4 linked regions of the Homo sapiens genome follow. The protein of the gene in region 3 interacts with the protein of the main gene of each other region in a biochemical or structural test. Each region holds a gene or a part of one and is shown on either strand. Other genes may lie near its edges. The genes, in order: YWHAQ, CTBP1, NRIP1 and AHR.

Region 1 (9,050 bases), on a different chromosome or scaffold from region 3:
AATAAGGAAACTCCCTGTTGCCACAGATACACAAGACCTCCGTATGTGATACAGGAGCCATTTCAATTTGTGACCCCTAGACAGAGATGGCAAGTGCTTTTCCATTCAATCTAATACTTCCGGATTCCTACTAAAAAGGAATACATTAAGAGCATGGAAAAGTTGCTTACTGAAAGGAAACCCCCGAAGAGTAAGGGAGGGAATGTAGAAATTAAGAAGTTATGTGGAATACTCTTTAAATTGTAATTAACTACATTTTCTTATTTTCACAGTAATACAAAACACAGTCACTTGCAGAACTGGTTCAGATTACTTAAATACCAGATACATTTTTAGTCCTCTACATAAGTGTTTGGGAGTTACTTATGTTTATATGAAATGAAGCTATTAATACTTTTCTACAGCAGTACTGCACACCAGGAAGGCCAAGACAAACACAAATCAAGGAATGAAGTTTTCCCAAAGCTGCAGTGTGAAAAGACTATAAACAGTTGATTCCATACACATGAATGGGTTTCTTTGCTATAGGAAATCCAAGTGGAATAAGGAATGGAGATGTGTAAAAAGGTTTCTTGAAGGAAAGAAGGATGACACCCTGTATGGATTTAGTTTTCAGCCCCTTCTGCCGCATCACATTCTTCTCCTGCACTGTCTGATGTCCAAAGCTAGAAAAAGAAGAATCATATTAAGTTACTATTTCTAGATTAGGCAATTACACTAAGTAGTATTGTTATATCAAAATTAACTACAAGAGTAGTAAATTCCTCAAACAATGGAGATCTTGACTAAGACTGAAGTTCTCTCTCAAAACCCCAAAGACCATCACCTTCCCAAAGTACATCCTTGCAGACCTTTCACTATGCACTTACAAAATGACATACATACATACATACATATACCACTGGAGCATGGTTTTATAGCTTCCTTTTTATTTAAAAAGCATTTGGCCAGGCACAGTGGCTCACGCCTGTAATCTCAGCACGTAGGGAGGCCAAGATGAGAAGATCGCATGAGGCCAGGAGTTCAACAGCCTGGACAACATAGCAAGATCCCACGTCTACAAAAAATTTCAAAAACAAAATTGGCCAGGTACGGGGTGGTGTGTGCCTACAGTCCTAACTACTCAGGAGGCTGAGGCAGGAGGACTGCTTGAATCCAGGAGGTTGAGGCTGGAGTGATCCATGATTATGACACTGCACTCCAGCCTAGGCAACAGGGTGAGATCCTTTCTCAAAAAAAAAAAAAAAAAAGAGAAACTTTTTTAAAAAGGCACTCTACTTTCAGAATAAGCAAAGTGATAGTCTCTATTCCCAGCAGCCCAATGCTCTTCTTGAAAGCACTACTGCATTATTATTACAGACTAATAAAGCAAAACATTTTCACAGGGAGGAAAAAGCCACAATCATGGTTAACAATTTTCAAGTGTGTGAAGGGCTAAACTATAGGAAAAGCAGACTTACTTTGTGTTTCTCCAAGAATTAAATAGAAGTGGGTGATGGAAGCTACAGGGAAGCAATGTGTGCATGTATAGACAGGGTTCTTGAATTAGACAGAATGTTAAAACTAAGTGGATCTTCCAGGATCTCTCTGATTTTAGGATAGGAAGATGAAGTGAAGAAGAGAAGTCAGTATTTATTGACTATAATTGCACTTTATTAGACCAACAGCAAGACATTAGTGTTAATTTCAGAAAAGCCAGAATCTTACATAATCCTTAGATTATTATGAAGATACTAAATAAAAACAAACAAAACAAAATCCCCCAAAGACCTGTCTCCATAATAGAGATAACAAAACAAAACCGATTAAAAGATAGTTAGCTCCAAGGTATACATCTGGGAAGAGGTATAACTGCCTAATTTGCTCTTCCTCTGTAGAACTATTTGCTGATCATCTTCCATTGTCCCCTCACAACCACAGGCACTTCTCATGGCTAGAAATGCAGGGTCTTCGTTCCCCTTTCAGTGGATTCATAATTACCCTATTCAGCAAAATTGAATAGACATGGTGCTAATATTTAAAAAATCCTATCTAGTAAATGATAAAGCACCAAACTAGGGGGCTGGGAGGACGAGATCTATATTAAAAGATTTGTTCCCTTCTTTTTCCTTCTGTGAAGTCTAAGATTTTACCTATCAAATTTACTTGAACCTACAAAAGAATGTTAAAGTAAAGCTTAAGCTGTACTTTTTCTTGATTACTTCCTTTATCAATTGCCTATCTAAGAAGCAGGGAGAAAAAGACAAACAAAACAGAAGCTTTTGCCTAGAAGCAGAGAAGGAGTAAGTTTAGGTATAGGTTTACTCCCTAAATGCTTGTAGAACATCATGCACAATTCACAAAGTAAACTTTTATTAGAACAAGGTACTTCCTGTGATTTTAAGAAAGCGTAGATATTTAGATAGTCCCTAACTGGCTATAGCTGATTTGCCCCAAAATATTGAAACTTGATAAGCTCTTTATTAACATAATTTATCAACATCTTCATCCCAATGAAATAGTAATATTAATATTGAGTTCCTATCATGTTAGAACCTTCTCAGGAAGGTCTGATAAAATGCCTATTCAACTTGAAAACCTGCCTACAAAATAATGTTCGTCCCATAAAATACTAACACGTATCTCATACTTTCAGCTCGTATGTATCTTCCCTAAAAGACACGAAGTCCAAAATAAAATATAAATACTTTTGTTTCTGAAAAGAAAATAAAATTAAAAGAGTAAACAACTCACTGTTAGGTTGTCTCTAAGCAACTGCATGATGAGGGTGCTGTCTTTGTATGAGTCTTCATTCAGTGTATCAAGTTCAGCAATGGCCTCATCAAAAGCCTGATAAATATTAATATCCATGGTAAAATATGTGCATTGACGAAAACTGGTTATTCTACAATTACAAACCATTTTTACAAAATAAGTGAACACCCACCTTATGTTCTACCATCAACAAACTCAACAGAACCATTCTCTCACACTCCCAGTTTAAGAACTTATGAGTATGACTGGAATTTTATAAAACTATACACTTAGTAAACAAGCATGTCTTGGTTCTTTCACAGGACAACGGAACAGCAGCAATGCTTAACAGACTTCTTTCCAGTTAAGTAGTACTTATCTCTACAGGGTCCTCTTTATTCTCTCGTTTTGAGCCACTTTGAGGAATGTGGCTGATGCACAGCTATTCTAGTAACCAAACCTGGCAGGCATGACTTTCTAATCTTTTATGTTTCCTTCTTAACATCATTTATCCTTCTTTGATTACTCTGCTCAGTATGCTCTGTAGGCACATCACTGCTTATAATCATAGGGTAGAGTAAGGTGTCAGGGGTAGGAGTAGGTAATCATGATGGGAAGAAAAAGAGGAGATTTCAAAATAAATATAGTAGAAATCATCCCTGGGTATCCAAGTAAAATACCTATAAATTAACATACCTGGTATCTCAAATAACTGTAGCTAAAGTACGTATTTCCTGGACACACATCTTACCGTTTTAGCCAGCGTGCAGGCAAGCTCTGGGTTATTAAGAATCTCATAGTAAAATACAGAAAAGTTAAGAGCAAGCCCCAGGCGGATTGGGTGTGTGGGTTGCATCTCTTTCTTGCTTATATCAAATGCCTCTTGGTAAGCTCCTTGGGAATTATCTATCGTTTCTGTGAAGAGCGAAAAATAAGAAGTGCAATATTAAAAATAACCATCCAGTACACAGTACATTAACAACTTGAACATATGCTACTAGCTCTTGGTAGAACCAAGATTTTTTCTCTGTATGGGTCTTTTAAAATCATGGTAGCTAACAAAAAACATTATCGTGGCCAGGCGCGGTGGCTCACGCCTATAATCCCAGCACTTTGGGAGGCCGAGGTGGGTGGATCACTTGAGATCAGGAGTTCAAGACCAGTCTAGCCAACATGGCGAAACCCCATCTCTACTAAAAATACAAAAATTAGCCAGGCGTGATGGCGGGCATCTGTAATCCCAGCTACTCAGGAGGCTGAGGCATGAGAATCGCTTGAACCTGGGAGGCTGAGGTTGCAGTGAGCCGACATCACACCACTGCACTCCAGCTTGGGCAACAGAACGATACTCTGTGTCAAAAACAAACAAACAAAAACAATATTGTGTACTGGGTATTTAAGAACTTGTTTATGGCCAGGTGCAGTGGCTCATGCCTCTAATCCCAACACTTTGGGAAGGTGAGGCAGGGGGATCACTTGAACCTGAAGAGTTCAAGACCAGCCTGGGCAACACAGGGAGATCTTATCCCTGTCTCTACAAAAAATAATAATAATAAAAAATAGCTAGGCATGGTAGTGCGTGCCTGTAGCTCTAGCTACTTGGGAGGCTGAGGTGGGAGGACCCCTTGAGCCCAGGAGGTTGAAGCTGCAGTGAGCCAAGATCATGCTGCTGCACTCCCAACCTCAGTGACAGTTTGTCTCAAACAAACAAACAAAACAAAAAACCAGTTTAGAATGTTGCTTACATATAAACAGCTTAATGGAAAAAAAACATGAGATATTATAGTAAATCAGACTTTTTTCCATACCTAGGCTAAAACTATTTTCTTATTTTATGTCTTTTAATTCTATTACTTGGAAATGCAGCAATTAAAAATAATTTGACTGGAATAATTTACAGTGGCTCACGCCTGTAATCCTAACACTTTGGGAGGCTGAGGCAGGCAGATCACCTGAGGTTGGAGGTACAAGACCAGCCTTACCAACATGGAGAAACCCCGTCTCTACTAATAATACAAAAATTAGATGGGAGTGGTGATGCATGCCTGTAATCCCAGCTACTTGGGAGGCTAGGCACAAGCCTCACTTGAACCCGGGAGGCGGAGCTTACGGTGAGCCAAGATCGCGCCATTGCACTTCAACCTGGGCAACAAGAGCAAAACTCCATTCAAAATTAATAATAATAATAATAATTTGACTGGAATACCCTTTCCCTAAATAATGTAAACTTTACAAAGATCATCAACACCAAAATCTCTATTTTTCTGATTTGCAGAAATACTGATTCTTAGTATCAAGTGGTATTATTTGAAAGGCAATATAAAAGTTTCAATAAATAGGACAAAATCTGCTCTGACCAGAGTTTGATTACTAGCCTAATTAAAATGTTACTCCCCCTTCAAAAAATGTTCAGTATTACCAACACTAATCTGATTATACCCATGTTTTGAAAAGGGTAGTTTTCTGTATGAGGCCACTGGCCTATTACAGCTTTAGAGATACTGACGTAAGAGAATTAAGCTATCCCTTTATGACCTGAATTATGTTCATTTTCTTTCCTCTGAAATGGCACATTTATTGATCTAATCCCTGACTGGTACAGCCCACATGCAATAAGAAGTTCTTGCAGCTTGGCAAATTAGGAAGCACCAGTGTCTCAGCAATTAGGCTATAAAGACAGCCTATCTATGAATCGCAGCCTATCAGAATGTACACAGGACTACGTGTGAGACCTGAAAGTGCCAATGAGCTCCTAAGGGTTAAATCAGGTTAAAGCTACAGCTATGTCTCAATCTCCCAAATACTTCTCTTTGGCTTTCTGATACTTAAATGTACAGTTCCGTGCCCGTATCATGTCCAATTCTGCTTACCTTCATGGCAACAGAAATTACACATCAGTAACAGAATAAGTAAGTTTAGTATATAGATTTTGTTATAGCAAGGTATAACAGTTTCTCAGGTACAAGTTCTCTTTATATATTCAGTTACACTGATATTTAGGATGGCAAAACTCTCATTTTCAGATCATAGTAACTATTTGTAGGGGTATATCTTTGTAGACAGGGCAAAATTAAGAACAAAACAACAAACTTACTGGAAAAAATAAGGACTGACACTTCTAATACCTAGAACTTGATAAATCTGGTAGCAAGCACATACACTAAATTTAATGAGATCTATCTTATATTCAGCTGCCAGTATCCCAAGAGACATTCACTGCAAATAAATTCACTTCACTTTTTTATTATCAAGTTAGGCAATTCGGTCACTTTTTCTCATATCCATGTTTTCTATGATAGTCTAGGTTAAAAAAAAAAGGTATTTAATACTAAAATCTATTTTTATGACCACTACTTGATTAATCAACAGTTCCTGTATATTCAACCTTCTCAAGTAAAACCTAACCATGAGTCATTCAAACTTACTGTGAAGTTGGAGCAAGTTATACACCAGCAATAACACACTCATTTCACCTCTCCTCAGAAATCTGATTATATGTAATTAGCAGTCAATGTTATGACCCCTTAAAATAGACGATAATGAATATGACAAACAGCAAAAGCACAACAACCTGTTTCCACGTTCTGTATGTAATTTCCAGTGATCTGAAGTTTTAAGGCATAATAGAAAGGCCATGTGAAATGCAGAATCACTCATAAAGTTTACACAAAAAACTCTGGAGCTAAAAATATGGTGAACCAAAATTCTAAAAAGCATAAAAGATTAATCCTGTTTTAAATAATACCATATGAGATTACAGAGTTCACAGATGAGCTTAATTTTTTTAAAGAGCATGTGATGTAAATTTATAATCCAATTTTCATTTTTGAGAACATAAGGTAATACTAATTTTCTTGACATACATTCAATTATTAAGTCACAAAGAGCCTGAAGACTACGTATACTGTCATAGTGTCCCATTTATCCCCATTTCTTTTTTTTATATTCTACTTTTGCCCATATAACAAATAAACTTACGTTTTCGATCATCACCACACGCAACTTCAGCAAGGTACCGGAAGTAATCACCCTTCATTTTCAGATAGAAGACCTTACTCTCTGGATTAGTTGCATTGGCTATTAAATATTTATCCAACAATTCCTGAAATAAATAAGACAGAACATTAGGCACTAAACTTCTGCCTACTGTGCATTATCATTAAATGATAAAACTTCTGCCTAGCGGGCATTTCAATCATTTACTACTACAGTAATACTATACCATACCAGCCTGGACTTGAAGCATGTTCTTAGAGCAGGGGTTAGGTTGTTGCCACTAGTTGCCCTGGGAGGCTTTAAATGATGTAGCCTATAGTTTCTAATGGTAAGGCTAGATTCTAGATTACACCAAACATTGTAATTTGAAACAGCCTATCTGTTCACTCATCCATTCATTCAACATTTACTCATACCTGCTAGGTGCTATAACGGATATAGAGAAGACTTAAAATCAGGCCCCTGCCCTCAAGAAGCTCACCGTCTGTAAGTACACCAACTACATACCAAGAACTAAGAAAGATGTGAATACGGTGCTAAGGAAGCACACAGATGGAGTAGCTCTGCTGGAGATGGCCTCCAGTTAAGACAGGCTTCCCAGGGAAAGAGTATTTGAGGCATGAAGAAGGAAAAGTAGAAATGCACCAAACAGAAAACAGGGATGTGCACTCATTTTAGGGACGGGAAACAAAATGTTTAAAACATCAAGTACGAGGGAGAATAGTGCTACTCAGTGCCCTTTGCATTCAAGTATCCATCTAAAATGAGGTAAATACAGGAATCGAGAGTAAGAGGTTTAGAAACTTGCACAGCAATTTAAAAGAATAATTTTAGGTCTACGAAATCTAATTATTTTTTTAAAAAAGTTCTTGAGTATGTCTTTTGTCCCTAATTTCATACAAAGAAATTTTCACTTCTAGTACATGGTATGCTATGCCTTGGAGTATAAAAAGTCACAAAAGACAAATATGATAGAAATCTTCTTAGATTCCATTTTTCTTGATGCTAGGTCATCCATTTAAAAACCTTTTTAGGGCCGGGCGCGGTGGCTCACGGCTGTAATCCCAGCACTTTAGGATGCCAAGGCGGGCAGATAACAAGGTCAGGAGTTCGAGACCAGCCTGGCCAACATAATGAAACCCCGTCTCTACTAAAAATACAAAAAATTAGCCAAGCGTGATGGTGGGCACCTGTAATCCCAGCTACTCAGGAGGCTGAGGCAGGAGAATTGCTTGAACCTGGGAGGTGGAGGTTGCAGTGAGCCGAGATCATGCTACTGCACTGCAGCCCGGGTGACAGTGTGGACTCCATCTCAAAAAACAAAAACAAAAACAAAAAAAGCTTTTTTGTATTAAATATTACAAAGCAAAATGAAATTCTCATAAAAATGTTAAGATACTAATACCTACTTCATTGGTTTGTTTTGAGAATAAAACCAGTAACAGATGTCAAAGCCTGGAATAGTGTCACATGTTAAGTACTCAGTAAATGTTAGCTAGTATCAGCCTAGGTACACAGTTTGAAAAGCACTGCTCTAGGAAAAGTGAAACTAGTGAACGTTTTAAAGCAGGGAAGAGAGAAGATCCTTTTTACATTTTGGAAAAATAACCACAGATACGCTCAGTTAATATTATATAAAATACCATCCATGATACCAAGTTGGCAAGTCTGGAGAATTAACAAGTAAGGTTGAGTCAAATTCACATAACTGCTAAAGAAAAGGAAGGCTGTTTATAAATTTAAAAATATACAATTCTAACCAAGAACTTTCTTCTTGTTTATCTGACTAAAAGTGGTCTAACAAAATGCAATCACTGCATCCATGTCTTTTTTTTTTTTTTTTTTTTTGAGACAAAGTCTCACTCTGTTGCCCAGGCTAGAGTGCAGTGGTGATTCTCAAATGATTCTCCTGCCTCAGCCTCCCGAGCAGCTGGGACTACAGGCGCACACCACCACGCCCAGCTTACTTTTGTATTTTTAGTAGAGACAGGGTTTCACCATGTTGACCAGGCTGGTCTCAAACTCCTGACCTCAAGTGATCTGCCCACCTCGGCCTCCCAAAGTACTGGGATTACAGGCGTGAGCCACTGCGCCTGGCCCATAAGTTATTTTTAAAGAAAATAAACAGAGGCTGCGTACAACAGCTCACACCTACCATCCAAGCACTCTGGGAAGTAGAGGCAGAGGCAAGAGGATTGCCTGAGAGCCCAGGAGTTTGAGACCAGCCTGGGCAACATAATGGGACCCTGTCTCTACAAAGAATTTTAAAAAAATTAGGTGTGGTGGCATACACCTGTAATCCCAGCTACTTGGAAGGCTGA
Region 2 (9,050 bases), on a different chromosome or scaffold from region 3:
AGAAAGTCTGCAGGAGGTGGGTGCAGCCAGGTGTGTCCCTTTAGATCGGGGCCCAGCAGCCTCCCAGAAACCACCTCAAGCCAACACCCACTGATGTGTCCCCTCCACCGCCAGGGGCTCAGCCCCACTCTGCTCAGTGCCCTCAACTCCAGTGCTCAGAGCAGGCTGGGGAAAGCTGGGTGCCCAGGAAGCTCGGCTGCCACCGGGCTGGAAACAGACCCCAGGACGCTCCTGGTGGCAGCTGGCTCTTGGGGGTCAGGAAGGGGCCCGCCAAGCCCACCTCCTGCCATGCAGTTCTGCCACCTGCTTCTGTGCTCAGGACTCGACGTCGCACTTACCTTTCCAGACCTCGTGCACAGGGGTGGCTTACTCTGTGAAACTGCTGCTCACATCAGGTCACCATCAGGGCAGATGTTTCTCTACGACACGCAGCCACATGCAGGCCCAGGGTGGGGCTGGGCTGAAGACCGCAGGTTTCAGATTTCCAGAGAAACTGCCAAAGCACCATCGAGACCGGCACGGCCGTTTCTATCCCACATGAAGGGCCAGGCCCAGGCTCCCTCAGCACGGCTGGTGCAGGGCTCAGCGCAGGCCAGGCCAGGGGTTACCGGCGGTGCCTGCTGCACCTGTGAGAACCCAGGAGGCGCACCCCGGTTCTCATACACCGCTCTGTCTGTACCAAACGCCACCGCCCTCATCCATTTTCTGTCGGGATTTTTCTGTTTCTACTGATTGGGAGGAGTCTTTGAATATATAAACTTTTTCATTTACTTATTTTACAGACAGGACCTCGCTGGACTGCAGTGGTGTAATCATGACTCGCTGCAGCCTTGACCTCCTAGGCTGAAGCGATCCTCTGGCCTTGGCCTCTGGATACGCTGGGATGACAGGCACAGCCCCTGCACCAGCTCTGAGTGTTATCAGACATTCACCCTTAGGCTGGCACACAAATTGAAAATACCCAACCCCTACCTCTCCCGTTTTTATTTTTTAAATTTATTTTGCTATGTCATTCTTTCTTTTTTTCCTTTTTGAGACAGAGTCTTGCTCTGTTGCCCAGGCTGGAGTGCAGTGACACGATCTTGGCTCACTGCAACCTCTGCCTCTTAGGGTCAAGAGGTTCTCCTGCCTCAGCCTCCTGAGTATCTTGGACTACAGGCGCGCACCACCACGCGTGGCTAATTTCTATATTTTTAGTAGAGACGAGGTTTCACCATGTTGCCCAGGCTGGTCTTGAACTCCTGACCTCAAGTGATCCACCCGCCTCAGCCTCCTAAAGTGCTGGGATTATAAGCGTGAGCTGCTGCACCCCACCTTGCAATGCTGTTACTTCTAATTGCCATTTAATTAAAGTGACCTTTTCCTCTGTAGTATCACATTTTCCACAGAAAACATTGTATGTTCTGTATTGTCATAACCTCAGGTAATAAACACATTCTCTTGCAAGCGTTCCTCTAACTGCTCTTCATTCAAACACGTGGCCGCTTCAGTAGGCAGCGAGCATCTGTGGTGGGGGGAGCTGCTGCAGTTCCTGAACGGCCACCCCAGGGGCCCCAGAATTCACCGACTCCCCAGTCCTCGGCCCACACACCTGAAAAGCCACTGCCTGAGTCCTTGGGTCCTGCTGGGTGGGATTGTCTCTGATCCTCTGTCCTGTCTACTCTTGGTGGTACCAACACTGCCCAACTGGATCTTCTAGACCTGAGAGGGGGTCCTGGGGTCTGGACATGCCCTGCGGGGGTCGCACTGCACCCGAGGCTCAGCTGGGCACTGGGCAGTCTGCCTGGAAACAGGCCCCTGCATACGGTGATGGGGTCTCTGTCCTCTTGGTCCTAGAAGCGACTGTGACCCGGTATTAAGGTCAGAGCCCACGGCAGCCCGTCTCTGTGCCAGCCGCCAGCAAGAGACCGAGGGGCTCCAGGCCTGTCCTACACTCCATTACCATGACAACGCCAGCTTGTGTGTTTTTCCCAGTCACCATGACAACGCCTGCTTGTGTGTTTTTCCGGGATTTCTAATCACTTCGTTTCCTGCACAGCCCCAGCACCTCTGTCTGGCGGAGCTTTCTGGTGGCCTCCCCACCCCCAAGGCGTGGAGATGCTTGTCTTGCAGGAGTGCAACTGTCCAGCTGGCTGCAGGTCCTCGCAGGCCACTGCGTCCTGTGCCCTCCCGGAGCCGCCCTGCCGCTCCAGGCCCCGCAGCCCACACCGGACGCAGCCTCCAGGCTCCAGGGCTTCCTTTTTCTTGCTCAGCAGTTTGATCAGATGTGCAGTGCTGGGCTGAAAACCCTTCTCCTGTGGAAATTCCAAAGCAGGCGAGTGGGGCTGGGCTGAGTCTTGTGTCCCGGTGGGTGACATCCCCCACCCGTGGTATCAGTAAAATCCCAGTCCTGAACCTGAACACTGGGGCGCCTCCCAGGCCCCGACATTCTTCCCGCTCCTCCTGTGACCGCACTGACGGTATCACGTTCTCTCCCTCCACGGCACTCAGACGGCGGCGACCTCCAACCAGCTATGCGGGAAGTTTCTGCCCCAGGAGGCAGAATTCCTGACTAACAGTGGCACACAAAGCAGGTGTTCAGTTTCCTCCCACGCCAAAGCCTGGAGACAGGGAGCCTGCGGCCCCGCTGCCCTCTCCACAGCCACGAGGGTCCCTGCCTCCTGCCTTGTTGCTCCACGGTTCCCAGCACGTGGCTCCCCTCACAGTCCAAGGTGGCTACCCCGGGTTCCAGCCAGCAGGGACGAGGAGGGGACGGCAGGGAGAGGCCCTGCTCCCCTCTGTTCTGGAGCTCAATCCTTTGGCCACCCCTAGTGGCAAGAAAGCGTGGGCAGCCAAGTCCTCCCACAGGACCACACACTGCGAAACGCGGACTCGGCATCCAGGCAGCCCCTGCAGACTCCACACACAGCCCCGGGAGGTCACGGCTTCTCTTCACCTCTCTGGCTTCTGCAATGTCCCTGTGTCTTTGAGCTTCCTGTTTTTATGAGATTTTCACTCATGTTTTTAATTTCAAGCTCTCCTAGTTCTTGGGGGCTCCTTTCTGTGGCGCCGGCTCTGCTTCTGGTTAGGGGCTGCTTCAGGCCCCTCCAGGATGCCAGGACGGTTCCCAACACTCTCGTCTCTTCCAAGAATCCAGCTGCATCCCCTGGGGCAGTTTTCTGTGTATTTATGTTGTCCTTTCTCTGCCCTGGGCTGTGCAGCCTGGGTGGGGAGCAGGAAGTCTGTCTCATGCCAGGGCCCACGCCGGCCCCACCCCAACCACTGATCTGCATTTTATATGAACCTGTCAAGGCAGTTTGGGATTACTGCAATTTTAGAAAAACATCTGTTTTGCCTTAGCTTTCCAATTTGTTGGCAAAACTGTTTGAGTATTGTTTACGACACCAAAAGTTTTCTACGAGCCTCTTTTTTATTCTTACGTGTGCATCTTTAATACAAATCCAGCTTCCCAATGAGAAAACCGTACCTAACAAAGGGCACTGTCCAAACCGAGCTGGTGCCACACAACTCCCTCAGGTGTGCACCACGGGCAGTTCACCCACAGCCCCTTGCATGCGTGTGGACATGCCCACGTGACGTGCCAACGTGCCCATGTGCCGATTCCAGACACCGGCCTGCCGGCGGCCCCCCCACCTACACCCCGGGCCACTGTTTCCGTCACGCTAATCCTATCACCTGGGGATGAAGAGATCATACAGTGTGCACCCCTTGAAACCAGCTTCTTCACTCGCCATCATGCTGCCGAGATCACCCAGGGTGTGGCAGGGACCCAGCGTTCATGCCTGTTGCTGAGGAGGACACCGAGGGAGGTGGCCAGCATTTGCCTGGCCACTCACCCACTGAAGGACAGCCGGTGGGGGGCGTCCTTCTGGTTTGGGCTATGGTGAGTTAAGCTGCTAGGGAGCATGACGTGCAGGTCTGTGTGTGGACGCGCATTCCGAGTCTCCGGGATAAAGGAGTGTGGCCACTGGGCTGCATTACAAGCACGCATCTACCCGTGTGAGAAACCATGAAGAATCTTCCAGAGCGAACGCCCCAGCAGACGCTCCCGGCAGACCACGCGCATTTTTAACATCAGATTTTCTTCCGTCCATTTTGGAAAGGGTTTTGCTGTCATCATCACTTCCAACCCCTTCCCTCTCCTGTTCTGAAGTTTCTGCAAGAGCGACCCTTCCTCATCTCGCCCTCTCCCGCGTTCTCTCCTTCCCTCCTGTCCGCTGCCGCCTGGTCAGCTGGTAAACCCGCCCCTCAGTTCCACCGATCAGCTTCGCCGTTTTCTCAGATCCGCATCTCATTTTCTCCCCTAACGCTGCTACGCCCCGTTCCAGAGTCATCAGCTCTTCGTCGGTGTCTGGCCCAGCCTCCTGGGGGCTGGGCTGGGGTGATCGGCTCGTGGGCAGCACGGGGAGCTCCTGCGGGTGGCACTGCTTCCCTGGCTTCTGCGTTTTGCGCATCTCCTTGACTGCCTGGTTACCTCTGTTTGCATGTGATGGACCCCGCACCAGATGGTGATTTGTAGAAATGACCCGAGGCCTCGGCTGACGCTGTCTTCCTCTAAAGGGGCCGTCTTACTTCTTTTGCCAGGCACCTGGGGCCGGCAGTGCGGGGTCCCCAAAAATCCAGATTCAAGGTTTCCTGGACATCAGCAGGCTGGGTGCCGATCGTGTGGCGCGTCAGAGTCCAGGTCACCCTCACTCCAGATGTCACCTTTCAGGCCATGGATATCCCGGCAGGGCCCCACACCCAGCAGGCCAGTGATGCCACCAAAGCCAAATTCAGCCTCTCAGCTACTTCTTCCAGAACAGCCAACACCCCAGGCCAGAGTTGGCAAGGCCCGCCCGTTCCTGCAGGTTATAGGCCTCTCCAGGCTGCAGCCTGGGCCTGGCCCTATCCTGTGAGCTCCTGGGGGCCCAGCTTCTTCGTCTGTCTTCAGGGAAAAGCTGCTCTGAATCACTGATCCCTGGCTACAAGTAGAAGCCAGACCAACCTAGTTCTCATCACGGAGGAGCCTGTGGGTCTCCTGAGCAAACAAGAATCAGGAAAGCTGCCCAAAGGCTGCTCACTGCTGGACCAAAGCCAGGCCGCGGGCAATGCCGAGACCGCCCGTGTGAAGACCGCCGCGCAACTGGGGCCGGGGGAAGCACCTTACTCCACCCCCGCCACAAAAGCTGGCATCCCGAGGACCTGCTCTCTGGGAAAAAACTGAAAATGAATCAAGAAGCCACAGGGCAAACCCGGTGTCCACCTCCTGATGGGGCTCAGGACAAACCGAGTGTCCACCTCCTGATGGGGCTCAGGACAAACCCCGTGTCCACCTCCTGATGGGGCTCAGGGCAAACCCGGTGTCCACCTCCTGATGGGGCTCAGGGCAAACCCGGTGTCCACCTCCTGATGGGGCACAGGGCAAACCAAGTGTCCACCTCCTGATGGGGCACAGGGCAAACCAAGTGTCCACCTCCTGATGGGGCTCAGGACAAACCCGGTGTCCACCTCCTGATGGGGCTCAGGGCAAACCGAATGTCCACCTCCTGATGGGGCTCAGGACAAACCCGGTGTCCACCTCCTGATGGGGCTCAGGGCAAACCGAATGTCCACCTCCTGATGGGGCTCAGGGCAAACCCGGTGTCCACCTCCTGATGGGGCTCAGGGCAAACCCCGTGTCCACCTCCTGATGGGGCTCAGGAGAAACCGAGCGTCCATCTCCTGATGGGGCACAGGGCAAACCCAGTGTCCACCTCCTGATGGCGCTCAGGACAAACCGAGTGTGGGGCTCAGGGAAAACCCCGTGTCCACCTCCTGATGAGGCTCAGGAGAAACCGAGTGTCCACCTCCTGATGGGGCACAGGGCAAACCGAGTGTCCACCTCCTGATGGGGCTCAGGATAAACCGAGTGTCCACCTCCTGATGGGGCACAGGGCAAACCGAGTGTCCACCTCCTGATGGGGCTCAGGACAAACCGAGTGTCCACCTCCTCATGGGGCTCAGGGAAAACCCGGTGTCCACCTCCTGATGGGGCTCAGGACAAACCGAGTGTCCACCTCCTGATGGGGCTCAGGGAAAACCCCATGTCCACCTCCTGATGGGGCTCAGGGAAAACCCCGTGTCCACCTCCTGATGGGGCTCAGGACAAACCCCGTGTCCACCTCCTGATGGAGCTCAGTGAAAACCCGGTGTTCACCTCCTGATGGTGTGCAGGGAAAACCCCGTGTCCACCTCCTGATGGGGCTTAGGACAAACCCCGTGTCCACCTCCTGATGGGGCTCAGGACAAACCCTGTGTCCACCTCCTGATGGGGCTCAGGGAAAACCCGGTGTTCACCTCCTGATGGGGCTCAGGACAAACCCCGTGTCCACCTCCTGATGGGGCTCAGGACAAACCCCGTGTCCACCTCCTGATGGGGCTCAGGACAAACCCCGTGTCCACCTCCTGATGGGGCTCAGGGAAAACCCCGTGTCCACCTCCTGATGGGGCTCAGGACAAACCCCGTGTCCACCTCCTGATGGGGCACAGGGCAAAACGAGTGTCCACCTCCTGATGGGGCTCAGGGAAAACCCCGTGTCCACCTCCTGATGGGGCACAGGGCAAACCGAATGTCCACCTCCTGATGGGGCTCAGGACAAACGTGGTGTCCACCTCCTGATGGGGCACAGGGAAAACCCCGTGTCCACCTCCTGATGGGGCTCAGGGCAAACCCGATGTCCACCTCCTGATGGTGTCCAGGGAAAACCCCGTGTCCACCTCCTGACGGCGCGGGACGACTGGGACAGAGGCTGCTCCTGCCCCAGTGGCACCCAGACCTGCTGTGGCCCGGGCCTGCCGTGCTCCCGTCCCTCCAACTCCCCCCAACGTGCGGTTCTGCCAGCCCCAGGCGACCACGTGGTGGTACCTTCTCATGGATCTCCTGCGTGGACTGCGCGTCGCAGAAGGCCACAGTGGCCACGTCCTTCAGGATGGGCATCTCCACTGTGCAGTCCCGGCCATCCAGCAATGCCACCAGGGGCCGCGGGTGCAGGGGCCCGTTCATGATCGGAGGTCGGACGCCTGCAAGACAGAGGCAAGTGCTCAGCCTTGCACCACTGCGGCCCCGTGGCTACAACCCACTCCACGCCACCCACTGTGCACGGGCCAACGAGGGCCGACCGCCGGGGGTTTTCTGGTCTATATGTTGTGATATTTGTAAAAAGTAAATTAAAAATCCACGTGAAAGACAACTCGTGTGTGCCTCAGCTCGCTGACTCAAGTGGACACAGACTGTGGACACCCACTACCATCTCCCTTGGGCACAGGACCTCCGAGACCCTCCAAGTCCCCTCCGAGACCCTCCAAGGCCCCTCCGAGATCCTCCCAGACCCTCTGAGACCCTCTCACACCCTCCAAGACCCTCCGAGACCCCCCAAGAAATCTCCAGACCCTCTGAGAACCTCCCAGACCCTCTGAGACTCCCCAAGACATTTCCAGACCCACCGAGACACCTCCCGACCCTCCTAGGCCCTCCAAGACCCTCTGAGACCCCCCGAGACCCTCCCAGACCGTCCGAGACCCCAGGGCAGCTCCATGAGGCAGGGGGACAGGAGGGACCCAGGACACTGGAGGACACAAGATGACAGCACGGGACTTTGGGAACATGGTTGTCCCTTTCCTGCCTGGGCTACCGCGTGGCTGCCCGGAATCCCTGATGGGGTCACCAGTGTTTCACGTAGGACGCCCCCAACCCTCTGCCTGGCATTACTTCCAATTATAGATGTGAAGAGAAAAGAAACAGAACAAAGGAAGAAAAGGGTTAAAACCTGTTAAAGTCCACTCTGTGCCCCTGACCTTCCCAGAACCAGATGATTAAAGCTCATTAACACCCATTCCTTTCGCGTATGACGCAACTAAGCCTCATCGGGGCCAACTGGAGAAATAAGGGCTCTGAGGCGTCACAGAAGCATGGCAGCTTCCAGGCACCGCCCGACCGCCCCGTGCCAGGCAGGGAGCACCAGGTGGGGCCACTGTCAGCCCCACGGCAGCTGGGCAGAGGCGGAGCTGGGGCCAGGGCCCAGCCGGTCCCTCCCCTCCTCCTCCAAAGACCGGCCACAGGAGACCAAGCAGTACCCAGGACCGTTCGGCCAGCAGGAGGGGAGGCGCACGACAGAACCAAGGAGCAGAGTGACCCAGCAGGCTCTCCAGTGGCCGCGGCCACAAGCACGCTCGGCCCAGTCTCCCGCCCCATCCGCTGCCCCATCCGCCTGCAGGTGAGCAGAGGCCACCGAGCTGCCAGTATCCAGGAAGCAGGGAAGTGCCTCCTGGAACCCATGGCAGAGAAAAGAAATGCTCTGGTGGACAGCCCAGGGGTGCAGTGGGCCTGCAGCACACGCCTGCAGGGGACGGGGCATGGGTCTCCACTGACCACCCCAAAGCCGAGGGCTCCCAGTACGGCTGGGCCCATGCCCCTCCCGTGAGGTCCTCGCGCCCTGGCGTCCTCGGAGGAGCCACTGGCCATTCCACCCACTTTCCTTCAAGATAGGAAACCAGATCCCAAACGTGAGGTCTGCACGGTCAAAACCGCGTCCTGGTTCGCCTGTTCCTTCATTCCCTCTGGACGGGAGCTGCCCACGAGCACCATAGACAGGCCGCCCAGTGACACTGTACATGGCCTCCCTCTGCACGTGGCCTCCCTCCCCGCTGTGTGTGGTGGTGATGACTTCTCATGAGCAGAAAGGTTTATGTTGCTGTTTCTGAGTGAGTGGATAGACATCCGCTCTCAGTATCCTTGGATTTCACTTCTGATGAGGAAGGCATGGACACACGGGATCACTGCAGACCGCTCGGCTGCGTCAGAACCGCCTGGGGGGACTCCTGGGTGCTGGGTGAGTGGGAACCGGGTCCCTCGTCAGAACCGCGTGGGGGACTCCCGGGTGCTGGGTGAGTGGGAACCGGGTCCCTCGTCGGAACCGTGTGGGGCACTCCCGGGTGCTGGGTGAGTGGGACCGGGTCCCTCGTCGGAACCGCCTGGGGGGACTCCCGGGTGCTGGGTGAGTGGGAACCGGGTCCCTCGTCGGAACCGCGTG
Region 3 (5,316 bases):
AGACACCACTGTGAATCAAACAAGAACATAAGAAAACTCAGAAGACATGGGCAGAGAAGCAAAATGGCCAGGTACGATGTAAAATGTAATGAGGCTAGCTAGCACATCCAACCTGGTGCTAAAAGTCTTTTAAGGACTTGAAGCTAGCTTGTGGAAAGATCAGCTATTAATGTTTGCCAGAGGCAACCCTTAGGCCTTTAGAGAAAATTGTAGTTTTCCAATGATAAGAAAATTACCCCATGGTTCTATTCTTGAATTATTTTATCAATTAGCTAAGGGAAAATACAATCTCAGACAATGCACTGTACCTGCACTGCGGCTCTATTGTGTGGCATCGTTCACATAGCTTTCCAAAAATGTGGGCTATGACAACTATAAAACGTTAGGTCATTTTCTTTTCCAGATGTGATCTCAGAGGTGAATGTTTCTCAGCTGAAGTGAGGAAAATGAATATTCCAAAAGGATTGCAGCTTTTCTTAAGGTTTGGAACACATACCAATGAAGTTTGGTAAAGGCAACAGAGGGAAAGCAGGTGGTTGTCTAGGACTTTGTGTCAACATAAAGGCTGTAAGAAGACTTTTGAATGTCTCAAAAATTCTCTTCTGACTGCAAAGGTATACTATTTCAAAATTTGGTTTACTGATTAAAAGGTTTATATGCGTACTTTTAGACACTCATAAGAGGACATCAAAAGTGCAACAGCACCTCCCCAGGACTGGAATTTATGGGACTCTATTTCCTATTATTCGGCCTCCAACTCAAGTACATAAATTTTGGCTTTTAGAGTGAGAGTCTTTAACTTATTTATGAAGATGGAATCTGAAAAATGTTGTAGATATTGTTGTGCCAGCCACTTATAGAGAATTGGAGTATTAAATGATGCTAAATGATGCCAAAAGCTTCCTCTACCAACCCTTATAAGGTGAGGTAGTATTAGATACAAGTTTTATGGAATAAACAAAAAAATTACCAGTATGCTTAATAATGAACATTTAAAACCTGTTTCCTACAGCCAAACAGGTCATAGTTGAGTGATACCAGTGGTAGGAAAATAAATTTCAAAATTACTTTTGTTGATGATTTTCCACACTAACAAGCTTGAAATAGAACCTTATATAGTATGTGATTTTAATCTGAATTGATTTTTAAAGACCCTCCATATTAAAGTCACAGGCACTATTTTATAATCAAGAATAGCTAACTGGTGCTTCTCTTCATAAAAATCCCTCCTGGGCAATTCACTACTTGATGCACTTGTCAGGGTTTTTCACCATGTAAATAAAAGAAGACATGGTTGTGCATCTCTCATTCTGTTATTATACAAATAGCAAGATGCAATTTTTCAACATTTTAATAATGTAGAACAGCAGGAAGTATTTTTATTACTTGAACATTTTTAGACATTTATAAACCTATTAAGAGAGAAGCTGCATGGATTACAATAGACCTATCTGGGTCCCAGGAAACAGAATTCCTCTTTGGGAAAATGTCTTTCTCATAAATTATCATTATTTGTAAAAATAAAAATTCCTAAGCTGTTAAGTTTACCTGGGTACAAAGTTTTTTTTTTTTTCTTGGAATCCACTGGTCTCTAATACTTATTGAGTATGTATGTTGCTTATCAATTACTCATTACCTATACACATACAGCATATATTTAAACATGTAAACACGTGTATATACATACACATTCATTTTTGGAAAATTATTAAACTCCTTTTTCTTTTATTTAAAATAAACCACACCCATTAAAAACTGGATAAAAGCCTTCTGATAAAGTCTTATCCTAAAATGAAGTGTGTATGTATATACATATAGTCAACATTAATTTTGAATACTGCACAAACTATTTTCTAGTTTAAAAATTTACAGTGATCAACTAGTTACACACTGAATCATGGGAGAAAGGCCATAGGCTGATTGTCACTTTGAGTTATGCCTTAATTACCCTGTTTCTAGTGCACTAACTTGCCAGCCACCTTCTTTTTTGTCCCCTTTATTTTTCTAAGAAGGGCAAAACATCCTTGAAGATCACTGTTATATTCATAGCAATGTGTTTTACGTTTATGGAAAACCTAAAAACCAGAGAAAGCCCACAAAATAACAGTCATTTCAAACCAGAGACAATGCATTTTTTCTCATTTATTCAAATTCACTGCAGGAAGTAAACACTAAAAGATTAAAAAACAAAACAAAAAAATTCACACTGCAGTATGTACAGTTTCATGACATCACATGAAGAAATTAAATTTCTAATAAAAATGGCAAATTATATTACTGAGCAGATCGCATCAAATTTGGTTGTGTAAACACCAGAATTCTTACTATGAATGGTAATGTGCCTATATTCCAGTATTGCTAATACTGGGATACTCTTGGAATAATGTTTGCAATGGGATTAAAAAATTCATGAAAGTAGTTGTGTGAATTCTTTATGTTTAAAAGTGGTTGACGATTAAAAAAATTCTTTAAGACCCTTCGAATCAAAGCACATTCTTTCACAAAGCTTAAACCACAGACGTCATGTCCAGAAATGGAATACTGTCATGTTAGGATGAACATCTGATCTGATTTGTTAAGACATTTTGCCAAATGCACAGATGCACAGGGTCCCCCATGCACTTTTCATGCAGCAGGTAATCACAACTTAAATAAAAGGTTTATTCTATACATTTGTCCAGACTTGCAACTGTATACATACATGCACAACTTTTAAACCTGTCTGATTATATTTACACTTATACATGGAATATACAGGAACCAAAGAGATTAAAAGGCTTTTCTGTTGCATTAGAACAATACAAAATATGTATTTTTCATTAAGGAAATCACTATTTACATCACCTTTAAAAACCGATTTTAACATCTTCATGTAACAAGTCAATATATATATATATACATATTATATATATATATATATATATATATATAAAATATATACTCTCACCAGTTTACTCTTCTGTAAGATGCAGCAGAGAATAAACAGGTAATGAATGCTACCTTACTGATGTCAATAAGCTGTAGTACCCTTTCACAAATGACTTTATTAGAAGAAATTGTCTAGATATCTAAAATAGTCCTTGAAAATGTGTATATGTGCATCCTTGTATCTACATATGCATAAACAAAGTGAATCTGTGGATGTATGCCCTTTCTCACTGTTCTTTAAAATCACCCTAAATTCAAATTGGGAACATTCTCTAGTAAATCAGAACAGCATTCTTCGTGGTCATGTTTATTTAAGTATTACATATTCTCATTCCTTTGTTAACAACAACGAAAACAACCAGCCAACCAAAAAAACAAAACAAAACCCACACACACACACACAAAAGTAGCAATGCTGGCCCTTGGTCTTTTCCCTGACCTAAATTTCACTCTCTTGTAAAAAGGTCATTTCCCCCTACCCAAGGGAGAATACCAACATATTTTTTCTGACATACCTCTAAGGCTCCAAACCTTCCACAACGATCAAGAAAAATGACTTGTTTAAAAGCTTATTTATATAGTGTTGACAATAAGATTGTCATAGTATGGACATGGAATAGAATATATTCAACTGGCCAGTGGAATTTTATGTCAGAATAAGCCTATGCCTTCACTTCTCCATGATGTTGCATAATACCCACTCCTATTACTGTATAATATTTCCAGTAGCTATTTACAAATCATTCTGAGGAAAAATAACCATTTAGGGTTTTAGATCATATTAGGAAATCACACCTATTTTTAATATAAAAATCTTAGAAACCACTTCAAGTAGAACAATTTTAAATCAATATCCTAACTAGTAGTGATTATAGAATAATTTTTGATAGGTCATTTGCTAACCTGGTTCACAATTAAGAACAAAATATCTGGTGAATGAATTGTGGATTGTACAAACTGAACATAAAAACAGACCTGTTTCGCAACTGAAACCCCATGTGGCTTCACTAATATATTAATTTCTTCTAAGACAGTATCAACATGTACTTTTCATCACTACTTTAAAGTAAAAGATCCAATGGAGTGATTGTGTACAATTCTGTCACGTATATGTGCCCTTTGTACTTTTTATTTAGTCAATCTGAGTTTAGTGCCCTTCTTGGGTTTAAACTAAATGTTGTAAGCTTTGTTGGCATTGTTCTTAGGACAATGGTTTTAATAAAGGTTAAGGATGCATTCAGGAGAAGTTTCCAAACCATCCTGGAATCACCTGAGTTTGGTAAGTGGCCCTGTTTTTCCATCCCTAAGGCTAACTAAGTAGATGTTACTCATTAGAACACACAAATAATCACAGATTTTCCTGAGATGTTGAGCCAGATATGAAAGTTATCCCCTCCACCCAATTTTTGTCATAAAAAGTGTTCTGAACCCGATTTCCAAAGACATAACGGTAATATATGAACTACAATATTGCAAATTTTGAGCTGATGTGTGACTGTATTGGGGAAAATAGAGGCATCACATAGTTTTTTGTTTTTGTTTTACAGTCTCATGTTCTGAGGAAAGTCATAAGTCATGGTTCTCAAACACAAGAAACACCTAGAGAGCATGTTAAGATGCAGATGGAAGATTCCAGGTCCACTTAGCAGAGATTCTTGTTCTGTAGATCTGAGATGCTGCCTATGAATCTGCATTTTAAAACAAGTGCTCCAGATGGTTCTAATGCAAGTGGTCTGAGTTCAGGTTTAAGGAATCCTGGTCATAACACTCGCAGGTACCACAGGAATGGTGAGAATTAACTTTTACAAGAGATGGTGAAAACTGTCCAAAGAAAAGCCATTTTGCTTCTGTTAAAAACAATTTCTTAAATATTCAACTTTTCAGGAAACCACCTAAAGATAAATGTTAACTTTTCTAATTCTGTAAAAGGAGGAGTATTAATTTAGTAAAGTAGTTAAAATACAAAAAATGGAAATCTGCCTTTTTTTTAAAGGATCTATCAAACTTCCCTCAATTGTAATCAATTTTTACTAAGTAGCACAAGGTTTAAAGAAATATATATTGAAAAGGATCAGGGTGGGACAGACACATTGGGAACCACAAAACCTCTTCCAAGAGTTAAAAATAAACACCTTTTTTTTTTCTTTTTAGCAAAAGTGAAAAATGTAAGCATATATTTTTCTAATTTATTTTTGAATTGGATAATAAGCTGTGAATCAGCACTAGGTTTTTTTTTATTGGATAATTATCCTTTAAAGAGTTGTTTAACAGTTTAGACTTTAAAAATGTGTTATGTAGGCTGACTTCTGAAAAGCAAAATAAAGTACCCTAATAAAGGCAGCAAAATGCATTAATCCACTATGAATGGAGTTTTACATTTTAATTTAT
Region 4 (9,050 bases), on a different chromosome or scaffold from region 3:
TCACTAATGGGAACCAGAAAAATAACACTTTAAGATTTACATTTAAAACCAGTTATTGGTTTAAAGTTTCATTCTAAAATTTTAGTTTCCTTTCAGAATTTCAGTTATCATAGTTCTTCAGAAGTATACTTATGAATTGGCATTAACAGAGGATAATAATCTATAAATAGACTGATGAAAATTTGGAAGTTTTATGGTACAGTGTGTCTTAAGGGAATATTGTCAAACCAGCAGTTTTCTACCTTGGCAGTTTGAGACATCGGTTATTAATACTTTTAATTTTGTAGAATGGTTTCTTATATTAAAGTATGTTTGTCTTATTTGACATTGTCATTGATGGTTAAAGTTGGGAGGCATCCCAAATGTCTGTTCTATGTGTTTATTAATATAATAATACACTTAGCATCATATATAATAGGGGTGTCATGGGTTTTATGTGTATGGTGAGAAAACATGAAGATCTCCCTGATGTGTTTTTAAGATACTGGGTTTCAGTTAGGGTGTTATCAAAGGACCTGGATGGCTTTGTAAACAAAAACAAATGCCATAATTTTGTATTCATTACACAGTTTAACATTTATGGATTTTGGTTATTTTGCGTAAAATGTACTTTTTATTAGATTATCCTAATATTATACTTACTTAGTTTTTAATATACTTGTATTAATTTCTTATAATATAACAAAAGTATTTTTTCCATTCACCCACATTTTGTTAGCATAGATGTTTATCAGATCTCTGCTGAGCACCGTATATTGCTTCTAATCATACAGATGCCTTAAATATTACCAGCTTGCTCTGTAAGAATAGGCTAGTGCTGGCATTTTCATTATCAAGTGAAAGTGTTTATATAAATTATTTTTACCTGAATGAAAAATTGTTAACTTTATAATGCAGTTAATCAAAGTTTATTTTAGAAATGAAGTCATTAAACCTAGTATTAAATTTGAGTTTTAAAATTAAACTACCAGTTTGTGGCCTAATGAGCCCCAAAACATGCCAACATTGGGGAAAATAGATCTTGTTTTGAGCTGAAAATGCTATCCAGACCTACTTAACTTTGACCTCTTAAATGAGAGCCATTTTATTTTATTTACAGATAAAATATGCTGTAGCATTATTATAGGACTGTTTAAAAAGACAGCCAATTAAATATAAATTTTATGGAATATAAGTATTCCATAAAATTTTGGAGTAAAGTAGGTGACAATTGTAACCTGAAGCTCTTTCAATCTTGAGTTGAATTTATTAAGAAAAATCAACCCCCCCTAGTGGCGGCTCTCACATTGAAAATTATCTTTATTAGTAGGAAATACATTTTAAATGTGTTCAATTTAATCCCACTGAAGTATCTCCAACATAGTAGACTCTCAATAAATATTTCCTTTCTTTTTGGAGTAATGAAGGTTGGGAAATTAAAGGCTCTGAAGCAACTTTACGTCCAATTCATGTTCCTACCTTCAAGAAGAAAATATCAAAGATAACTTTCATTATAGAATCTACTATAACTTTGCTTAGACTGTTGCCCCATACTTAGTGACCCTACTCAGAAAAAGAGAACAAATCCTGTGTTTATTTTATTCTCTTTGGAAATGAAAGTGTTTATTTATTTTGTCTCATGAAGATAGTCAAAAAGGCCATTATATAATTAAATAGAATGTTTTTCCCTAGTGATAATTTTGTATATATTTTTGTATTTTTAAGGTTTTAATCATAAAGAAAAAGTTGTAATGGATTTCAGCTTACCTGTACATAGAAAGTTAGCACTGAATGTTGGCAAATAATAGGTGTTGAGAAAAGGGGATCTACACTTTAAAATGATACCAGCTGTAGTGGTGATTAAGCCATTATGAAGTGTCAGAACTGGAAGTCACTTCTGAGCCTTAGCTGATCTTTCTTTAAAATGCATACTGATAAAAACTTTTACTTTTATTAACATATTAATAATATAAAAGCATTGTCTTGCTATTCTTTTTAAATGTCATGAATTTCATATATGTAATACTGAATTGTATTACTTACATAATACTCATTAAATGTTTTCTATAAATTTATGGTGCCATTTTTAAAATAGCATCTAAAATAAAAGAATGGGTCTTTTCATTTACACAATTATTTCTCCATCATTTTTCTTTCCAATAGCTTTAGATAGCATATACATAGTAGTTATGGACACTTGCTTATTAGAACTATGAAATGAAGTAAGTGAAAGTGTTTAGTTATAGGTAACATTAAATGGCAAAAAGAGGAAACAGGTATAAATTGAAAGCACTGGATCTAAACTAAAAAATGAGGTCTAGTTTCTTCACTGTTACAGATCTGGGCAAGTTTCTTGACCAATAAAGCACGACAGTCAGCACCTGTACTGCTACTCTCACAACTAAAACAGAACAAAAAAAAAATATATATATATATATAAACTGTGAAGACTGCTAAAGATACAAATGAAACAGAAACGTAAATTCTATTCTTTTAGCTTACATTATCACAGAACAATCAATTCGCCCGTGAAACAGTAAGAGGCAGTATACGATTATGTTCTCAATTACGGCTACGGCTGAAATGTGCTACTTCACTGGTGAATAAATTTACATAGTACGTGCTTACTCATGTATTTAATTAAGACAGTTACTTAGAAATAAATACCATACAAATCTTTTACAACAGTACCTTTCTACTTTTATGCTTCTTTTAAAATTGATATTTTGCTAGTGGCTTAATATGACAAAAGATGACTGTTTATTAGCACTTATTCTGATACAAGCTTGCCCAGTTCTTTACATCATTTTCTTCATTTTTATAATAGTACTAAAGAAAGGTAGTATTATTTAAGTTTATAGATAGGGAACTGAGATTCAAATTCAGAGTTGCTCAGATAATGAGAAAGAGTTTGGATATTGGATCCCAGGTCTTTTTGCTTCAAAGCTTGTGTTCTTACTGACTTGTGTTCGTACTGTCCAGGTGAACAGATTCAGTGATGCATACAGTACAGCCATATCCTAGGGATTTTCACTGTTTCTTCTCAGATAGTGTTATGGCTGAAATAAATTATTTGTCATTTCCCATACATAATTTGTACTTGCTCATCCCCATACTTGTGTTTTTACGTCCTTTCCTCTTAGAGTCTTTTCTCCTGTCTTATTGATTTGCTACCCACCTCCCTTCCTCTTTAAAACATTGTTTTTAAAGGCTGCATAATACTCTGTTGTACTAATATTCTATAATTTTTTTAACTGTTTTTCTTTTGGGAGGAAATTTTATTCCCAACCATTTAATACTTTAATATTTCAGAGAATACCCTTGGGACGTGTAAATTTTAATGCAAATTTATTTTTTTAGGAAAAAATTCCTGTAAGGGAATTTTGGGATAGAAAAGTATGTGTTGTTTTAAGGTTGAACCAAATCGTACACTCCAAGAGATAGTATCAAATTAAGAAAAATTTACTAATTACATTCCATCATCAATCTGGGGATGTGACTATATCTTTGCATTTTTGCTTAAAAAATATTATTGTCAATTTCATAGGCAAAAGTGTGGTTGGTAATTAAAGTTATATGTTGGGATCATGGTTATGTATAGGAGAAGCACTTGTATTTGCAGATTTTCTACTTAGGGTGTCCTTTACGTATTCATTTGTTTTGTCTTACATTTTTCAGTCATCTTTTAGTTTGTTCTTTTTACTTCTTTCTATTGAAATATTGTTTTAAAATGTATTCCTATTAAATAATACTGGCAGATTTTAAAAGTCAATTATATATGTGGCACATCTTAAGTATAGCATGTGAGGCCTTATCTTTTGATGTCTTACTGTGGTAGTTAGGGATTTTAGTGCTGTCTTGTCTCACTTTAACCTTTTTCACCTTCCTGCATCCTCCCAATATATTTTATCACAATTTTGGATTATATACACATTAGTGTTGTATTATTTTTGACTGTATATTGTTTACTGTTTAGCTAAGTAATATACTGTGATTATATTTGCCTTCCTGTTCTATGCTATTATTGATTTCTTTTCTACCATCTTCCTGTTTATTAGCATCTGGGTTTAGCTGTCACTTAGGTTCATCGGAGACAGAGTTTGTGTTTCTGGCTCCTGCTTTTCTTGTTTTGGTGTGGTTTTCTGGAAGAGAAGGGTAGTTGCAGAAAGCTAGATATTCTGCCGTCACAGAAACAGAAGTGTCTTGCCTGTATTTAAGACCCGATTTAGATGCCACATCTCCATGAACTCTTTTGCAGCACCTGTGTTACTGAGCAATATATTATGCTTGATTTTGCCATGTTATAAAATATATTTCCTCCTAGTAGGAAAAAGAATGTCTTTAAAGATAGGACTATTATTTGTCTTTGAAACTACCAGAGCTTCCCAGTACAGTACCATGCACTTAGTACATATTTGAGATGTACTAATTTAACAATTAACTACCACTTAAAATTTTTTTGGTAATGTTTTAGTGATTCTGGTAAGGCAGATACATTTTATGCGGGTTCGAGGGGGAATAAAAATGTGTGTTTGCGTAGAAGAAGGGGGAGGGGAAACAATGAGTTTTCCAGGATTATGGAACTAGTAGTGGTTTCTAGGCCATATTTCATTTTCCTGATCTTCCCTGCTAATGTCTTGTGCTAGAAACTATGCTGTTTATATCTCATCATCTCTCCTCAGGTATAGCAAACAAAAGGGAAAGGAAAGAACTCATCACAATTATAGGGCAGCAGCAGGAGGGTGGCAGAAGACTTCTGACTCATTAAAAGTGGCTTCCAGCCAGAATTCTCAGAAGTTTTTGTAGATGTTTTTGACTCATATAGGGAAATAAAATATCCAGCTGTGTTCAGCCTGACAATGAAGTTGGGGTCTATTTGTGCTATGTGTCACCTCCATTACATTAAGCACATAGTTTATGATTGTAAATATTTGAAATTTATATTCAGAGATAAATACGGATGCACTGAAGCTGGGGGAAGGAAATGAAGAATGAATGGGGTTAAGAGTTGGGCTTTATTGGGTGTAGGTAGTATGGTAGGGGGATTTTATTGAGGAATACTTCAGATTTCCTAGCTGTTAGATGGAGAGTAGCACCATAGTGCTGAGAAGCGGGTGCCCAACTCCAGGGGAATGTTGAATGGAAGGGCACAGGGTCAGGTACAGGGACTGGAAATAAAGATAAACAAGTTATGGGTAAGTAGACCAACGCAGTAAGAGTAGATTAAATCACCCCGAGGAAAAATCCGATAGAGCAAACTCAGTACTGTGAGAGGCAATCTCTTGTTAAAAAACGTCACTTTGATCTCATAGGATTACTGAAACCATATCTTTGCATGTCATTTTGAGGTTTTATAATGAATATTATATAAAACAGTTATATTTATGAGTAAACTTGGTTAATTTTTTCAGCTTTGCTTCAAACACTGGCTACAAATGATGAACCTCATAGACTTTTTTGATGGAGATGTTAAAAAGGCTTTCAAGATAGCATTCAGACTGGCATTGGGCATACTGTTGGGCCTGTTACCACCAGCAGTTAAAGCTTGCAGGGCTTCTAAACAGAAGCATGGCATGCAGTCAGCTGGAGTCTTGATTTCATAACAATTTTACAGATTGGGACAAGATTTTTGAGGTAAAGGTTTCAAAAAATAATAAGTTACTCCTTTGCCTGACCAACATCATACGGTCTATTTCAGGAGATGTTTGAACTCCAGAGCTCCCAAATCCAATCTTACAGGGATGTTTATTTATATTTCAAACAGGCTTTTCCTTAAATAATGGTTAGCAGTGTCCTTTCTTAAAGATTCGAAGACAATACAAAAGTAAAAATATTAGCGTAATCCAAGTCAAGTGCAGTTAATGTAAGATTACTCTATTTTTAATTGTTCTGTATATCTTCAAGATGTATGGATAGATATTAAATATTTTAACAAAATCTGTACATTTCTCACAAAATCAGTGAAAAAGTGGGTCAAATGCATTACCTTTGTTAGCTTTAACAATCTGACATTTTAAAAGCTTCAAATCCAGTACATCTGAATTGTTAAGTTCTGAGGGTACTTCTTAGCCCTGACCTTAATTCCTCTGTGTATTTGACTTTCTTCCTCTGTGTATTTGACTTTCTTCTATGACCTCCAAAATATTCTACCCTGGTTTTTTTCCGTCTATCATTTCTTCTCTGTGTCTATGCCTCTTCCATAGCCCTATACCTAAATGTTGGTATTACTGAGGTCTATCCTCAAGCCACTTTTTTCCTTTTCTGGTACAGCTCTCATTAGGAAATGTAGTTGTTCTTCTGAGCTACAAATCGCAGAACCATTTGCAACCTCTCCTCACTCAATGGTTTCCTCTTCCTTACTTCCTATAGTGAGTTAGTTTAGTTCAGTGAACATTTGAGTCTGGCTTAAATCTCTCTTCAAGCCAGTCCTTTCTTAACCTCACTGTCACTGCCTTTGGTCAGGTTGTGATCATTCCTTTTCTTGGCACTTTTGGTCAGCAAACATTAATTGAGAATCCACTCTATTATGCTGGGCATTAAGGATACAAAAATGATTTAAGCTTACATAGAAATAAGGGTGTTAGGCAAACAAGTATAAGCAATTATGTTACTTGACAATGGAAATTTGCTCTCATGTTAAATATTTTGTAAGACACATAGTAATGCATTAGAAATGTAGACAATTTTGCATTATGAAAAGCAAGCCTCAGAATCTAGTGTGAGGCTGAATATTGCAAAGAGCCAGCACAAGACAGGCAGCAGTACCACATGGAGGGATACCTTTATGTTACTATTAGTTCTCCCTGTGTCATAGCATGTTGCCTTGTTTCAGCGTTTGTGTCACTCTCTTCTCTCCAGTGTTTCATAATCATTACTGGAAAGCCACCAAGAGTGCAGGACTGGATTGTGTACACACTTTCTATTTCTGTGAAGTTGTTTGTATGGAATATTCCTTAATGGAATCATTATATTAGACATTTGTATAAGAAGTCAAATGGGGCAGAGTTGCTAATCCATTGTGAGGTAGGTCAGGGAGGACTTCATGAAAGTGATCTACTTGAGCGGGGACTTGAAACCAATGGGACATAACAAGGAGGTTGTATGAAAGCACTAAACCACATGTTGTAACTGTAAGTAATTTCTTAGCTCTGGGGTAGAATAGACAAAAGCGGCTTCAATAGAAGAAATGAAGCCAGAGGGGTAAATGAAGCTAGAAAGATCATGAAGGATTTTGTGTGCTAAGCTAAGGAACATGGACAGTTCAGAGCTACTGAAGGAGTTTAATCAGAGGAGTGACACAGTCAGATTTATGTTTTAGAAAGAAGTTCCTGGCATCCCGGAATCCTAACTTCAGCGAACCCTGCCCTGCTTTCTGTATACTCTATCACCAGAGTCAGCTTGGTGAAACACAGGCTGATCTTGTAAATCTCAGCTCAACACTTAAGAACAGATGCCTAAGTCCGATTTCTATCGTTACTTTGCTGTCTCCTCTATCTTGAACATTTTTGCATCAGACACCCACATAGCTCACTTCATTTTACTCATGTCTGTCCTGAAACATCACATCAGAGAGACCTTCCTAGGCTGTCCAAACCAGCATCACGTCTGTCACCCCTTAGTTTCTTACCTTGCTTTATTTTTCTTCTTAGCACTCACCGCCCTAAAAGTTATATGTTTATTTGTTTATTTCTCCATCCTCCACCTAGGATGTAAGCTCCATGACAACAGGAGCTTTTGTATATTTTGTTTACCTGTAAGTGTTCTGTGCTGGGCACTTGATAGGTGTTCAGCATTTGTTGAAAGAATGTGGCCCCAACCATCCTTCTTCTTTTCTCTCTTTCACCCTGTGCCTCTCCCTTCATGTGGGGGAATTCTTACAGTTCACTAATCCTTAGTTATGCCTCTTCATGAAATCCTGTCCCTCACTCAAGATCCATCTCAGATACCACCTTTTCTGTAAAATCTTTTTTCAAGCAGTTGCTGCTTCTGCTTAGCTCCCATAACACTTTTTGAATAGTTAGGAGAAAAGTGTTTACCTGGGCTGTACAGGATGTGATGGATATAAATAAATACTTGTCAGCAAGTTATTAATTAACCAGTAGAGAATTACACAATGAGGTAGACAAGCATTATAGGTAAAGTTTGAAATTCAGTTGGTTAAGTGGAGAAGTGAAGTAATTAGGTGTGACTTGAAATTTGTTTATAAATGCAATATGATTAGGGGAAAATAGCTAGGGGAACCATCACCAATTTCTATTATATACACAGTTGTACAGACAACCTGGAGAAGGTATCTGTTGATACATACATAAACACACACACACACACACACACACACACACATCATTTTACCGATGTATTACCTTTTTTGTAGAAGTATTTACTTTTCATCTTCTTTCTGCCTAAAGTATTACTTCTCCACATACATCACTGAAAAGAAATTATCTAGAAATGTTTTGATTGGGTCATATTAATAGCACTATGCCCAGGCCAATTTCTACTTTACAAAAGCTGATATAATTCCATTTGAATTGTCAAAAATGTCTTTGTTGTAAGAAAACGCTAGATAATTACTCTTCTGGCTAACAGGAAGGTATAGAGGTATAAGGTATAAATTACTTTAGTTTCCCAGTTCAGCGTGGGTATCTGATGATTTTTAAATTCACTTTAAGTGATTAATGTCTGCTGTGAAATCCTGGCTGGGGTCTTTGTGTGAAGTTATTCAACTTTTCTTTTCTGAACTCATGTTCCTCTTTGACCCATAAGTGTCTTTATTCTCAGGTGAAAATCATGCTAAATTGTTTAGGGTTCCGTTGAACTTTCTAATTGAGACACAAGCTACGAAAGCTAATAATTAAGTATAATTATTGTCTACATGTAAAAGCAAAAGTTGCTGGTAATCACCATTAACCTCTAATATTTGCCAACAAGAAATGTAAATAGCAAAAGTCAAATTTATTCTTCTTTTAATATTTGAGGACCACATTAGATGGCTGGAGGACCATCTGCAGGTGTCAGAGGGGCTTTGGGACATTATCTCTAATGAGTTGAAAGTAAATAAATACAGAAAG

The links.
Region 1: the proteins of NRIP1 (region 3) and YWHAQ form a complex in vitro, tested with the Homo sapiens proteins (one study listed by BioGRID).
Region 2: the proteins of NRIP1 (region 3) and CTBP1 form a complex in vitro, tested with the Homo sapiens proteins (2 studies listed by BioGRID and IntAct).
Region 4: the proteins of NRIP1 (region 3) and AHR form a complex in vitro, tested with the Homo sapiens proteins (2 studies listed by BioGRID).

Annotation. Positions count from the first base shown.
Region 1 is NC_000002.12:9,584,681-9,593,730, forward strand, and holds part of YWHAQ (14-3-3 protein theta), read right to left. Parts: intron 6,836-9,050; coding exon 6,712-6,835; intron 3,649-6,711; coding exon 3,485-3,648; intron 2,830-3,484; coding exon 2,734-2,829; intron 666-2,733; coding exon 606-665; 3' UTR 1-605. UniProt on the Homo sapiens protein: Adapter protein implicated in the regulation of a large spectrum of both general and specialized signaling pathways. Binds to a large number of partners, usually by recognition of a phosphoserine or phosphothreonine motif.
Region 2 is NC_000004.12:1,231,297-1,240,346, forward strand, and holds part of CTBP1 (C-terminal-binding protein 1), read right to left. Parts: intron 7,042-9,050; coding exon 6,887-7,041; intron 6,882-6,886; exon of another isoform or gene 1-6,881. UniProt on the Homo sapiens protein: Corepressor targeting diverse transcription regulators such as GLIS2 or BCL6. Has dehydrogenase activity. Involved in controlling the equilibrium between tubular and stacked structures in the Golgi complex.
Region 3 is NC_000021.9:14,959,113-14,964,428, forward strand, and holds the end of NRIP1 (nuclear receptor-interacting protein 1), read right to left. Parts: 3' UTR 2,123-5,316; downstream 1-2,122. UniProt on the Homo sapiens protein: Modulates transcriptional activation by steroid receptors such as NR3C1, NR3C2 and ESR1. Also modulates transcriptional repression by nuclear hormone receptors.
Region 4 is NC_000007.14:17,300,410-17,309,459, forward strand, and holds part of AHR (aryl hydrocarbon receptor), read left to right. Parts: intron 1-9,050. UniProt on the Homo sapiens protein: Ligand-activated transcription factor that enables cells to adapt to changing conditions by sensing compounds from the environment, diet, microbiome and cellular metabolism, and which plays important roles in development, immunity and cancer.